Linked DNA regions of Homo sapiens. The protein of the gene in region 2 interacts with the protein of the main gene of each other region in a biochemical or structural test. Each region holds a gene or a part of one and is shown on either strand. Other genes may lie near its edges.

Region 1 (7,322 bases), on a different chromosome or scaffold from region 2:
CCATGTTAGTTTTGTTTTTTTCCTTTTTTTTTTTTTTTTTTTTTTTTTTTGAGATGGAGTCTCTTTTGCCCAGGCTGGAGTGCAGTGGCGCGATCTCGGCTTACTGCAAGCTCTGCCTCCCGGGTTTACGCCATTCTCCTGCCTCAGCCTCCTGAGTAGCTGGGTCTACAGGCACCCGCCACGAAGCCCGGCTAATTTTTTGTATTTTTAGTACAGACGGGGTTTCACCATGTTAGCCAGGATGGTCTCGATCTCCTGACCTCGTGATCCGCCCACCTTGGCCTCCCAAAGTGCTGGGATTACAGGCGTGAGCCACCGTGCCCGGCCTTGTTTTCGTTTTTGAATTACCCATGTATTGTGTGCTTATTCATGTGATCCTCAAAACCACTCTATAAACTCCTACCTTCAGGATGTTTAGTGAGATTCAGTAACTGAGTCCCGATGACAGGAGAGCTTGAGCCCCCGGAAGGCAGGGATTGCTTTACTCATCTCTGAATCCCGGGACCCTACACAGCGATGGGTACGTAGCAAATCTTTACTAAAAATCTGTTGAATGAAGGTGTGAATGAATGACAGTTCCTCTGTGGAATTCAACTGGAAACTACCAGAACAGTGATTCTTAATTTATTCTTAAGGGGTGTGGGAATTGGGGGTGGGGGAGGGGCGGTGTTAAAGATCCCTCGAAAAGTAAAATAAAATGATGTGACTTAATTTTTCCCCAAGAAAGTATACCTATGCACGTAGGAAGCTCTACATTCAATTTCAGGGGACTCCTGGGACCCCTAAGGCCCATCCAAGAGTCTCTGCCACAAAAGGTCTTTGAGATGAGGGACTTCAGTGCTGAATTCCACTGGAGTCATTTGGGTTTGTTTCCAGGTGCAGGCATGGCAGCGTTCACCAGCCTTTTAGAGCTAAGCAGCCCCAACTGCCCATTATTTGTTCAACCCTTCTAATGTGAACAAAGGCCCCACTGCTAAGCCGGTCAGGAGGTGCTTTTTGATAAGACTTAATCACAGGGATGAAAGGGCCTATAGGGATTAAATGTCTAAGTGCTCACCCGTGGCCAGGCCAAATAAACAGGATCCAAAAGGGATTTGGCTTTTGAATACGGATGCATGAGATGTGGCCGAGTGGCCCATGCCTGCTCCATGACCACAGGAAAAAAACAAATCACAGTGTGTGAAAGCAGCTTCGTTGAAGGACATTATGCTAAGACATTCCAATTATAAGTGGGTTGATTTCAATTTTTTATTCCCAGAATTACTGTTTAACTGACTGATAGACATCAACCATATTTGGAGGCCAGGCACAGTGGTTCACACCTGTAATCCCAGCACTTCGGGAGGCCGAGGTGGGAGGATCGCTTGAACCCAGGAGTTCGAGATCAGCCTGGACAACATAGCGAGACACCACCTCTACAAAACATAAAAAAATAGCTGGATGTGATGGCACACTCCTATAGTCCCAGCTACTCAGGAGGCTGAGGTGGGAGGATAGCTTGAACCTGGGAGGTCAAGGCTGCAGTAAGCCATGATCACACCACTGCACTCAGCAGTGACAGTGAGACCCTGTCTCAAAAATCAAATCGAAACAAACCATATTTGGTATACATACTTATCCTACCCCTAAGTAGAATATCATAATAGGCATTTACTTTAGTAATGCTAAGACAACTACCATTTATGTTCTCTGGAATTATATGAAATAGCCATTTATATAGGTTAGAAATGGTCAAATATGGGCAATTCATGTGTATCAACCTAGGAGGACCTACATTTCCAGTGAATGCTTCTTGCTGAGTCCTAGCACAGGCTGGGCCCCTGGAGATCATTTAGGCTGGTTTGCTCTCTGATAGGTGGAATAACTATAGCCTAGAGGGCTTAAGTCACCTGTCCAAGATCACAAGCCTCTCAAGTTGGCCACAGTGCCTGGACTAGAACTCACATCACCCAAGCCAGTGTCCAGCACTGACTGTCCTAGCAGAGGTCACACATTCCAATAACTCACTGTTTTCATTGCTGTGACCAGTTGGCTCAACTGGGTACAAGACATAAGATCAAGACCATGATTTGAGCTTACACATGTCATTAGTTGTGCCCTGTCTCCAGGCTACAGAATGATCCCCTAATTCCAGCCATTCCTGTCATGAATGTGTGTTATTCATGACAACAGCAATCAGGACACTATTAGGAAAGTAACACTCATTTGACCCCAAAGTCCAGAGTTTTCTTTTCTTTCTTTTTTTTTTTTTTGAGATGGAGTCTCACTCTGTCGCCCAGGCTGGAGTGCAGTGGCGTGATCTCGGCTCACTGCAAGCTCCACCTCCCGGGTTCATGCCGTTCTCCTGCCTCAGCTTCCTGAGTAGCTGGGACTACAGGCGCCAGCCACCACGCCAGGCTAATTTTTTTTGTATTTTTAGTAGAGATGGGGTTTCACTATGTTGGCCAGGCTGGTCTCGATCTCCTGACCTCAGGTGATCCGCCTGCCTCAGCCTCTCAAAGTGCTGGGATTACAGGCGTGAGCCACCGCGCCCAGCCCCAAAGTTTTCTTTTCTTGAAACATGGTAGATCGCTCACATCACCTGGGCCTATAAAAGGCAGCAAAGTCTTTCATTTTTATATCAAGAAGAGAAAACAATATGATTACCTACGTTTACCATGAATCCTCCATTTTAAAAACTCTCAAAATTTTCATTCTAAGGCAATTAACAAAGAAATGAGTAAGGAAAACACAAGAAGGAAAGAAGGAAGAGTGGATGAGGAGCCAGGCCATGTACCAGGAAAATCATTCCTTTTATCATTTTCTGGAAAAGGCACATAGATAACTTTGTTACTTAATTCCTCAAAAAATAAAGAATGTGTGCTAAGACTTACCTATGCAGTGTGTGGGCAGGATGAAATTCCTTTCCAAAGCCAGGCTGTTCTGAACCTTCTTGCTGGCGTTAGCGAGCTCTCTTCTGGGTTGCACACAAGCCTCAGCCTGCTGGGCACCTTCACCTTACAACCATCTAAGCCCTTGCAACTGCAGTCTGCAATCCTATGCTTTTATGAACCCACATGTTTAATCTAATCGTATGTGGAAAGTTAAATACTAACTGGCAGTTGGAATTCACCTTGGTGCCTGATGGGGTGTGTGCCTCAGGGACTCTGGCTTTGGGCAGAGTGGCACAAGTTCCTGCTCTGGGACCCTTCCTGCCAGCTCCAGCCAGGGCAGGGCCTGGGTACAGTGAACATCTTTCCCCAGAAGAAGTCTTCCTCTTAGGGTAGGCTTGGGGGACAACAGCATTCCCTGCCAGAATACGTGGGAAGGGCTGGGTGGGGTGGCTCACGCCTGTAATCCCAGCACTTTGGGAGGCTGAGGCGGGCAGATCACCTGAGATCAGGAGTTCAAGACCAGCCTTGCCAACATGGTGAAACCCCGTCTCTACTTAAAAATGTAAAAATTAGCCAGGTGTGGTGGCACACACCTGTAGTCCCTGCTACTCTGGAGGCTGAGGCAGGAGAATCACTTGAATCCACAAGGCAGAAGTTACAGTGAGCTGAAATCATACCACGGCACTCCAGGCTGGGTGACAGAGTGAGACTCTGTCTCAATGAAAGAAGAAAGAAGAAGAGGAAGAGGAAGAGGAAGAAGGAAGAAGAAGGAAGAAGAAGGAAGAAGAAGGAAGAAGAAGGAAGAAGAAAGAAGAAGAAAGAAGAAGAAGACGATGTGGGAAGGACAGGGCCCCAGGGAGAGGAGCCAAGAACAGCCATCTCTGGGTGGTTGGTATGGGTTGAGGGGGTCAGTATAATTCCAGGCAAGTGCCGTGTTCTGAAGACGCTAAATAAGCTAGATTCTGGTAAATACTCCTCCACGGGACCACATCCAAATGAGTTTATAACAACATTGTTGTCTTGTAAAAGAGAAACGGGCTGCAAGGGTACTAAGGTACTACATGGAGGAGCTGGAAGTTAAGTCCAACAAAGAGGTTTTGAGGTTTTTGTTTGTTGTTGTTGTTTTGAAACAGAGTCTTACTCTGTCACCCAGGCTGGAGTGCAGTGGCGCAATCATAGCTCACTACAGCTTTGAACTCTTGGGCTTGAGGGATCCTCCTGCCTCAGCCTCCCAAGTAATGGGACTACAAGTGTGTACAAAGCCTGGTTAATTTTTATTTTTATTTTTGTAGAAATAGGGTCTTGCTGTGTTGCCCAGGCTGGTCTCAAACTCTTGGCCGCAAAGGATCCTCCAGCCTCAGTCTCCTAAGGCGGTGGGATTACAGGTGTGAGCCATGGTGCCTGGCCCCCAGCAAAGTATTTAAAGACCTAGCAAGAGCTAAACATACTCTATTTACCAAAAGATCCTTTTCTATCATGGTGGGGACCCTTGGAATTGGGAGAACTGAGTCTTTATATTGGCTATCATTTAGGAGTGCTTACCATGTGCTTTTATCGTATTAACCTCAGGTAATCATTGCCACAACCTGATGTGGAAGGTACTGTGAACTTAGCCAAGGGAATCAGGGCACAAGAGGTCTGATGACATGGAGGTGGAGCCATTTGGATTTGAATCCAATTTAAATGGCAGCCACGGAAGTTACACTCACTCACTCAAAATCACTTCAAGGTCATGTGGGTGGTCATTACTCTGTAACTTGTCTCATGGTTTTGTAAAAGGAAGGTTCACTTTGTTTTAAAATTGGAGTTTCACATTAAATGGTGCTCTGAACCATGTGGCTTGAAGCACACTGGGTGGCAAGAGGAAGATAGCTAAGATTTAACATGATCTACAAATTATTGCAGAGTTAACGTTATTAGGTGTATTTTAAAGAAATACGAGGATCTCTGTAACTCCGCAAAAGCTTCTCATTAACACCATTTGTCCTCATGGGTTGTCTTCACTGAACAAGATAGGCAAACTCAGCCAGGAGGAACACTTTGGTGGTGTAACTGTGTTCACCATGCCTCTGCAGAAATGGAAGCAAAACGTTCAAGTAAGAATTCCGCTAGGAGACGGTGCCACCTGCTGGTGGGAACAGGGAACTGAGGCCAATCTTCTAACTCAGCCCTTGCGGTTTAACTTCACTCTTGAATTCTGGCGCCGAGGAGAGGGGAATCAAAGCAGCGTGTTGTGCTTTGGTAATTAAAGGCAGAACTGGACGGCGATGTGTCATGGAGGCTGGCAAACCAGGTGAGCAAATTACTTACTGTCCCTGGTCTTTGGATTCTTCGTCTGTAAGATAGAGATAAGAGTTCCTGCTCATTTGGCTTGTTATAAAAGTTAAATGTGATCACAGATATATACAGCACTTAGCACAGAACCTGGCACGAGGTAGGATAGTAAAATCTATAAATTGAAATGCAGCAAAATTCATTTCTTGTTTTAATAAAAGCAAATGTAGAATGTTTTACCCATTCAATGAAAAACTAGGTGGGAAAAAACACTTTAAGAAAAAACTTTTAAACAGAAATCACCAGCCGGACATGGTGGCTCACGCCTGTAATCCCAGAACTTTGGGAGGCCGAGGCGGGTGGATCACCTGAACTCAGCAGTTCGGGACCAGCCTGGCCAAAATGGTGAAACCCAGTCTCTACTAAAAATACAAAAATTAGCCAGGCGTGGTGGCACACGTCCGTAATCCCAGCTACTTGGGAGGCTGAGGCAGGAGAATCGCTTGAACCGGGGAGGCGAAGGTTGCATTGAGCCGAGATGGTGCCACTGCACTCCAGCCTGGCCGACAGAGCGAGACTCTGTCTTAAACAAACAAACAAAACCCAGAAATCACCAAATAAGGTGGTAGAAAGATATCTGCTGTGGCATAAATGTTTGTGTCCCCCCAAAATTCATATAGTGAAATTCTAACTCCCCATGTGATATTACTAAAAGGTAGGGCTTTTGGGAGGTGGTTAGGCCAAGAGGATGGAGACCCCGTGAATGCGATTAATGCCCTTTTAAAAGAGGCTACAGGGAGGTTGCCTTCCCCTTTCCACCATGTGAGGTCGCAGCTAGAAGGCACGGTCTATGAATCAAAGAGGGAGACCTCACCAGACACCGCATCTGCCAGTGCCTTGGTCTTGGACCTGCCAGCCTCCAAACTATGAGCAATAACTTTTTGTTATTTATAAGTCATCCAGTTTATAATTTTTACTATAACTGCCCCAATGACTAAGATAATATCTGAATATATCTATAATCACAATATCCTTTAAAATAAGTACCTATTAAAAGAAGTATTATTAAACTGAATAACAAAATAAAATCTAGCTATATGCTTCTTAAAAGATAAACATCTAGGCTGGGGCTGGTGGCTCACACCTGTAATCCCAGCACTTCGGGAGGGCGAGACGGGCGGATCACTTGAACCCAAGAGTTCGAGACCACCCTGGCCAACATGGCGAAACCTCATCTCTACTAAAAATATAAAAATCAGCCAGGCATGGTGGCATATGCCTGTAATCCCAGCTACTTGGGAGGCTGAGGCATAAGAATCACTTGAACCTGGGAGGCAGAGGTTGCAGTGAGCCAAGATCACGCTGCTACACTCCAGCCTGGGTGAAACAGCAAGACTCTGTCTCAAAAAATAAAATACAAAATAAAGATGCACATCTAAAATAAAAACAAATAAAAAGTTGAAAATAAGGTGATGAAAAAACATATCAAGCTAAGGCTAAAATGCAGACATCTAAGAAAAACTGAAATTTCAGGTGATCCATAGGATATTAAATGTCACTACAATTTGATAAAAGAAACAACCTGCGAAGAAGATAGTAAAATCATGGGCTTGTATATGGACTCAAAATATTCAAAGTGAAACAGGCAGATTTACAAGAAATTGAGGCATGCACAATGGTAGGAATTAGGTTTCAGAAACTGATAGATTTTTTTAAAAAGTAAACATATAGAATTGAGTAATAGAATTAATTACCTTTATAAAATAGATGGAGAGAACCCACACCTAACCAACAAATGATGTGCATTCTTTATAAGTGTCCATAAAACGGTTTTAAAAACTCACCATGTGCTGGGTCACAAAAGAAGTCCAACCAAATTTTTAAATATCAGCTTTATGTAGACTGGGTTCCATTACTACAATGCAGTTGAATTATAAATCAGCAAAAATATAGTCTGTACACCTTGATATATCTGAAAACCAAAAAATAAGTATATCATCACGTAACATATGGATAAAGAGGAAAACACATAAATAATAAGATATTAAATTACAAAGGAACTGCCATATATTTGAAAACTTCTGGGATGCAGACAATGTGAACCTTAGAGGCAAATTTATACAGTAAATGAATTCACTAAAAGGAAAAGAGGCTGGGCATGGTGGCTTATACCTG
Region 2 (7,022 bases):
TTAGGGTTTTCTAGGTATAGAATCTTATCATCATCGGTGAAGGGAGATGATTTGAGTTCCTCTTTTCCTATTTGGATCCCCTTTTATTTCTTTCTCTTGCCTGATTTTTCTGACTAGGACCTCCAGTATTATTTTGAATAGGAGTGGTGAAAGTGGGCATCCTTGTCTTGTTCCTATTCTTAAGGGGAATGTGTCTCGCTTTTACCCATTCAGTACCACATTTACCATGGGTTTGTCATAGATGGCTCTTATTGAGATATGTTCCTTTGATGCCTATTTTTGTTGAGGGTTTTTTAATGAAGGGATGATGAATTTTATCAAAAGTTTTTTTCTACATCTATTGAGATGATCATACGGTTTTTGTTTTTAATTCTGTTTACATGTGAATCATATTTTGTAAAACCTCCATTCTTGGTGATACCAACACAATTACTTACCTTAACCTGCAATTCCCATGCAGCACTCTTAGAATAATATAACAAATAGTATCACAACAATTATGTGGCCACTGCATGCAGCTCTATTTGTCTTCAGCAGTAACCCGCTAGAAATATGTCACCTGAAATCAGTCCTTCTGGGTGGTTAAGCCACTAATTCAGCACACATTTTTAGGCTCATTTGTTTCATTTCAATTTTGAGGGACTACTTTTTCTGGTTAAGATTTATTTAGGGATTTTTCACCAAGCGATTACGAACAGCTTTTTAAAAATTACGCAAGCTATTGATTTACATGGCTTCAAAGTGAAATCTATAAAACCAGGTACATTCAGAGGCATCTTGATTCCATATGCCACCTCCCCCCCCGCCACCCTTTTGAGGTAAACTTTTAAGATTTGGAGGCTTCCATTGCTTTCGTTTTTAATATACATCCAGACTTGCATCCTCCCCTTTATCAGATGAAGAATAGCTGCTATATTTTTATTCACTGTGCTTTTTCACTTAAAAAGCATCCTGATACGCCAGGTGTGGTGGCTCATACCTGTAATCTAAGCACTTTGGGAGGCTGAGGTGGGAGGACTGCTTGAGGCCAAGATTTCAAGACCACCCTTGCCAACACAGCAAGACCCTGCCTGAAAAAAATAATTAAATAAATCCTGATAATCACTTCATAATAAGAGAGATCTATGCATTCCTTTTTTACAGCTGCATAATATTCCACAAATCTCTGATTCAACCAGTCTCCTACAATGGGCATTTGCAGTTTTCCAAACAGTACTTTCACAAGCAGCCCTGCACACGCAGCTTCTCCTGCCTTTGCCAGTGCCTTCAGGTAGGTTCTGGGGAGGGGGTTGCTGGGTCACAGGTCAGTGAAGACAGTTTTGCTAGATGTTGCCAAATCCCTTCCTCACAGAGTCTACCCTCTTGCATGCCTACCAGCAAATGCCAAAGGATTTCTGCCAGCCAGAAGGGACCTCAGTGACATTTTCCTCGACACCCCTCTCGCCAGGAGTGAAGGCGGCACCTTCTCACATGTTCAAGGTCCCCCTGTGGGTCACTGTCCTGTGAGTGGTATTCACATCTCCTGCTGGCTGTGGGTTTTCTTCTGTTTTCAGAAACTCTTTCTGTAGTAAACAGATTAACCCTTCGTGAAACATCACATCTTCCCCCAGCCTGGCAATTGGCTGTTTCCCATTAAGATTTTTTTTTTTCCCTGAGATGGAATTTCACTCTTATTGCCCAGGCTGGAGTGCAACGGCGTGATCTCGGCTCACTGCAACCTCCACCTCCCGGGTTCAAGTGATTCTCCTGCCTCAGCCTCCCAAGTAGCTGGGATTACAGGCATGCACCACCACGCCCGGCTAATTCTGTATTTTTAGTAGAGACAGGGTTTCACCACGTTGGTCAGGCTGGTCTCGAACTCCCGACCTAAGGTGATCCGCCCGCCTTGGCCTCCCAAAGTGCTGGGATTACAGGCGTGAGCCACCGCACCCAGCCAAGGTTGCTTCTTTCTTATGTGGTCAAACACATAAATCTCCTCCACGCATCTAGCATTCAAGTCATAGAAAAGTTTCTTCGCTCTCAGGGTAAAGAATTCCAGGCGCTTTCTTTAGGTACCCAAGTGGTTTTCTGACCCACTGGGAGTCTATCCTGGTGTGTGATGTGACAAGTGGGTGCAGTCTGGTCACTTTCCACATGGCCACCCACCCACCCCGCAGCACGCATGAAGCCGCCCATCTGTTCCCCACTGGTTGGAGATGCTGCCTCTTTTACGAAACTTCATATACAATGGAGTTACATGCGGTTTTTAAAAAGCTGTTCCATTGGTGATCTGCCTGCCTATAAGGCAATGTCATGCTGTTTTAATTAGCAAAGCTGTATGTTTTATAATATTTGAGCCATCCTAGCCAAGAGCACAGACGTGACTCTTCACAAGAGAACAGCTGGAGACGTCACGGAATAGAATGCCAAGCCCAGGGCCCGTCAAGATCAAACGCTTGAAGCGCATGGTTCCCGGGGCTGCTTAGATATAGCCAGAGGAGGTTCCCGCCCCGTCTCCAGCTGCTCCCCTCTTTGGGGCAGGGTGGGGATGCCTCTGGGAGGGGTCTACCCCTCTCAGTCAGAGCTCCTTCTGCTCCCTCCTCTAAGCTGCCCGGGCTGCTCTGCGTGGAAGTCGAGGACACAGCCCCTGGCCCCAGGGTGGGGTGAGGGGTCCCAGTGCAGCTGGGCTGTCTCCATGCAGAGGAGCATTCCAGGGCCGAAGGGAGTACAGGGGTGGGGGTCCCTGTCCAGCTGCTCTGCCTGTGGTTCCTGCTTTCTGAATCTCTTCAAATCTCTGCCTGGAGCAAGTTCAGCCAGGAGCCGGGGAGAGCTACTCAGAGCACCCTTTCAGTGCGCCCCAGAGTATGATTTTGGAAGGCAGCAGAGAAAGGTGTGCACCTTAGCAGATATGGAGGGAAAGCTAAGAGCCCCCGCCCCCAGGGAACCTGCACTCTCTGGGTGAGGGCAGCCGTAGCTCACCCGCTGCCAGGACGCAGGCACAGACCAAGGCTTTGAGAGCCAACTCTCAAAGGGGACAGTCCTCAGGGTGCTTCCTGGTGGCAAGTGCTAGGTGGGAGTGGGGGTGCCCATGGATACAAACTGGGCCTGAGGCCAGGAATAGTGCACCACCTCACTTGAGACCACAGCATCCTAAGGGCTTCTGGGCATCCTAAGGGCTTCTGGGTGTCCTGAGGGCTTTCTGGGTGTGGCATGAGCAAAGTGGCCAGGCCTAGTTGTCTCATCTGTAAGGCGACCCAAATGTCCTCATCTGTGAGTGGAGGAGCGAAATGGGGAGCAGAGCCCAGGCCCCAGGTCCCAGAGCGGGCAGGGGCCTGTCCTGGAGTCAGCTCCCCAGCCCGGCTCTTCCATCAGGAGAAGTTCCTGCCAGAGGCGGCCAGGCAGATGCCAACAGACTCCAGGCGGCTCATCCTGAGAGTCCGGTGCCGATGAGGGAGCCACGACCCTCCTGGGAGCCTTTCTGCTGGTCCATCCACCCAGTGCCTGGGACCACAGCCAGGTCCTTCCAGTGCTCAGAACCCTCCAAGGGCAATGACAGTGCCGATCCCATGGCCCCGAGCCTCAATCCTCTAAGACAGGGTTCTCCAACCCCGGGTCCGTGGCCTGTTAGGGAGCAGGCCGCACAGCAGTGAGTGAGCGTCAGGTGAATGTGCACGGCCACCTGAGCTCTACCTCCTGTTGGATCAGCGGTGGCATTAGATTCTCACAGGAGCACAAATCCTATTGTGAACTGCGCACACAAGGGATCTAGGTTGCACGCTTCTTATGAGAATCTAATACCTGATGATCTGAGATGGAACAGTTTCATCCCAAGATCACCACTGCCCGGGTGGAAAAATCTTTCTTCCATAAAACAGGTCTCTGGTACTAAAAAGGTTGGGGACTGCTGCTCTACGGGGAACGGTGTTTCTGCAGAAGGGCTCAGGCACCCCCTTGGACCCACCACCCTTAACCTGGATCCTTCTGGAAGCACCATGCCTGCTCAGATGGACCCCACACCCTGAACCAAACATTAGAACTTCCCAGGAGATGGTCGAGAAGTGGGAAGACACCTGGGTCCCATCATGGATCTTCCCCACCTCCAGCCAGGGCCTGCTCCCCAGAGAGAAGCCCCTCCCCAGCCAGCACCCACCCACGTGGGGCTCCCAGAAGAGGGCTGGGCCAGGCAGCAGAAGCCACACCCTATCACATGGTCAGATGCCTCGTGTAAAAGCGGCCCCCTGGACTAGGGTCACGCGGCATCCCTGTGGTCACCCAGCCAGTACCAGAGACACCAGCCGCCTCCCTTTGTCAACCACGATAATTTTGCATCTGTGAGGTCTGGGGTTTCTCATGGTGGTTGGAGGAGCTGCTGGAGAGAGACAGCTACCCACCAGGAAGGGGTGTGGAGGCCAGGACGGTCTCACCGACGTGCCCGCAGGGACCCCAGATGCAAGCAGAGCATGGTGTAGGAGCATCCGGGGCTGGAGTGACCCACAGTGACAGCAATCCCATACTGGCCAGCCCCAAGGCACCTCCCGAGAGTGAAGCCAGACGCTGCCGCCCTCCCCTCTGTAACCAAATCCTTGGGGTCTGGGTCAAAGTGGCCCAGGATGGTGATATTCATTGCCTCATTCTCCCCTCCAGCAGCAGATGTTGGGCTTCTGGAAGCTTCTCTGCGGCATCTCCCCGGGCCGACACCATGCTCTCCCAGCACTGGCCACACACCAGCAACTCGTCTTGGGCATCTGCTGTCTCTCAGCTCTTCCTGGGCCTGGAATGTTCTCCTGGCATCACCGCCCTTGGGAGCTGTCTCCTCCCACAGATGCCTGAGATGAGATTGTCCCAGCCTTGTTGTTCTTGCCCGTGGACAGAGTCTTGAATCACAGCAAGATATCGCAGGGGCCAAAAGCCAGTTTGGAATGTCAGGGCTACGGAGGGCTCGTCCACCTCCCAGACAAGGCGGGTGGAATGCAGGGAACTGGGGGCCCTGCCTAGGGCCGAGCAGGGGCTCAGGACCAGGACGTGTGCATCTGCACCTTGGCTACAGGGACCGGTGGCATTCCCATCGCTGGAAGGCATGAGCTCCCTGGACCCGCTGCATCAGGACCCCTGCGTCAGGACCAGCTCCCTGGACCCGCTGCCCTGTTAACAGCATCCCTAGGACTCGAGGACGCTTGCTCGTGTGAGCAGCTCTGGATCACACTGGCAAGGACGTCAAGTGCAGAAGGAGCAGACTTGAAACCAGCCTAGCAGCAGGAGGGGAATTCTCGGCACCCAACGCCTTTAAAAACGGGGGCATCAGCCACCCGGGTGGAGTTGCCTGGCAACCCCTGTCACTCTGACACCCTCGGTGGGCACGGTGCTCCTGCCCATCTCAGCTGCCCCCAAAGGCACTCAGCTCCGCACAGCCTGTTTCCAGCTCTGGAGCACACATAGGGTGGGTTTGGAGCTGTTCACCCTTCCTGTCCTCTGCAAGACGTGCCACATGCCAGGATGGCACGTGGCAGAACTCATAGCAGCAGCTGACGTGCCAGCTCCCTGGCTCCAACCACCTGACCCCGCACTGGCCGGCCCAAAAGCATCCCAGGCCTTCAGGCCCAGCGGAAGTTCATCCCATCGGTACCCAGGAGTGTCCCCGCAAAGCCCCTCCCTCAGACCCGGCCCTGTGACACAACGCAGCCCGCACGTTATATGCAAAGGTTCCAGTACCTCGCAACTGCCAAGCAAAAAGGGACCCTCCTGCCCCCAGTACCCCAGGGTTGTAGGCTCAAGCTGCGGGCACCATGCCCACAGGGAGCTGTGGCTTCAGTGCCAGGCACGGGTGAATGTTCCCTCCAACCGAGGCACCCTGCACTGAAGGTGCCAGCACCAGGAGCCTGCCACAGAGAATGAGACGCAGACTCAGAAGGCCCAGGACCCTGGCCAAGGCAGCCCAGCCACAGGGCCATGCCCAGACACAAAGCCCTGCCACCTGATCCATGCCCACCAGGCACTGCCCAGGCCACCTGCAAGGACCCAAGTCCCTACCACCCTCCTGATCCCCTGTCCCCACACAGGCTGGGGAGGCCCTTTCTCCCAGGCTCTAGGCTCTTGCCACCTGGACTACCCCCTCCCCAGCTGACGGCCAGGGGTAAGGGATGCCTGTGTTCCCCCCAACTAGTACGAAGCCACAGTTAGGCACTCGACATGTTGGCAAGAGCGGATCTAGAAACACTGGGCCGGGTCTGCGATGTAGGTGAGGGGACCCCAGACAGCCAGGGGATGAGACCAAGGGCTCATGCCCCACAGAAGGTAGCACTGGGAAAAGCCCCAAAAGGAATTCCCAGTTTTCCTGGGAATCTAGGGCTGAGGAGTGGGTGGACAGATCTTAAAGAAGATGGAGAGAAAGAGACCTGATGGCTCAGAGAGCCCCGTCCTCCTCTGTGCCCAGCCCCACCACCTGCCTTGGCCTCTGGCCTCCCTGCCCAGCTGCAGAACAACTGCCCAGCAGCTGCTTCAGACTCCAATGCCAGAGCCTGGAGATAGGAGGGCACTGGAGTCCACAAAGTTGGGTGCTGCACCCTGAGAGCTGGCTCTGCATGGCCTTGTCTTTTGGGGAGGCAGCCAGATCAGCCCCATCCACCTCTGGGACCTGCTTCTGGCTCCATTGTTGATTAACACGCACCCGCGAGGGTTCTGCCAACACCCCTGGAAAGTTCTTGGGAAACAGGGAAAGCCAAGGCTGTAGGAGCGGGGAACAGGGGCTGCTGAGCCAGACTTAGGTTTGAGAGCCTACAGGGGCAGTCTCCATGCACTGCAGGTCCCCCCTCAAATCCCTCTCCTTGGCCACAACCAGGATCTCCAAGCATCTCAGCAACCAGAGTAGATGCCACCTGGATGTCCACACCCCTGGCTAAGGCTCACAGCAAGGGAGCTAGGACCGCTGGGTGCAGCAGGGCTGTATGGACCCCCATCCCCTCAGCTAAGATGGGAGCTGCCCCCAGTGGGGGCGCAAGCAACCACAGATAACTGGGGGTGTTGGGGGCAGGAAGCCTAAGCGGGCA

What was found. The genes of interacting proteins can lie anywhere in the genome.
Region 1: the proteins of KCNQ1 (region 2) and KCNE2 form a complex in vitro, tested with the Homo sapiens proteins (one study listed by BioGRID).

What each region holds. Positions count from the first base shown.
Region 1 is NC_000021.9:34,359,703-34,367,024, reverse strand, and holds the start of KCNE2 (potassium voltage-gated channel subfamily E member 2), read right to left. Parts: upstream 3,020-7,322; 5' UTR 2,874-3,019; intron 1-2,873. UniProt on the Homo sapiens protein: Ancillary protein that functions as a regulatory subunit of the voltage-gated potassium (Kv) channel complex composed of pore-forming and potassium-conducting alpha subunits and of regulatory beta subunits.
Region 2 is NC_000011.10:2,448,005-2,455,026, reverse strand, and holds part of KCNQ1 (potassium voltage-gated channel subfamily KQT member 1), read right to left. Parts: intron 1-7,022. UniProt on the Homo sapiens protein: Pore-forming subunit of the voltage-gated potassium (Kv) channel involved in the regulation of cardiomyocyte excitability and important in normal development and functions of myocardium, inner ear, stomach and colon.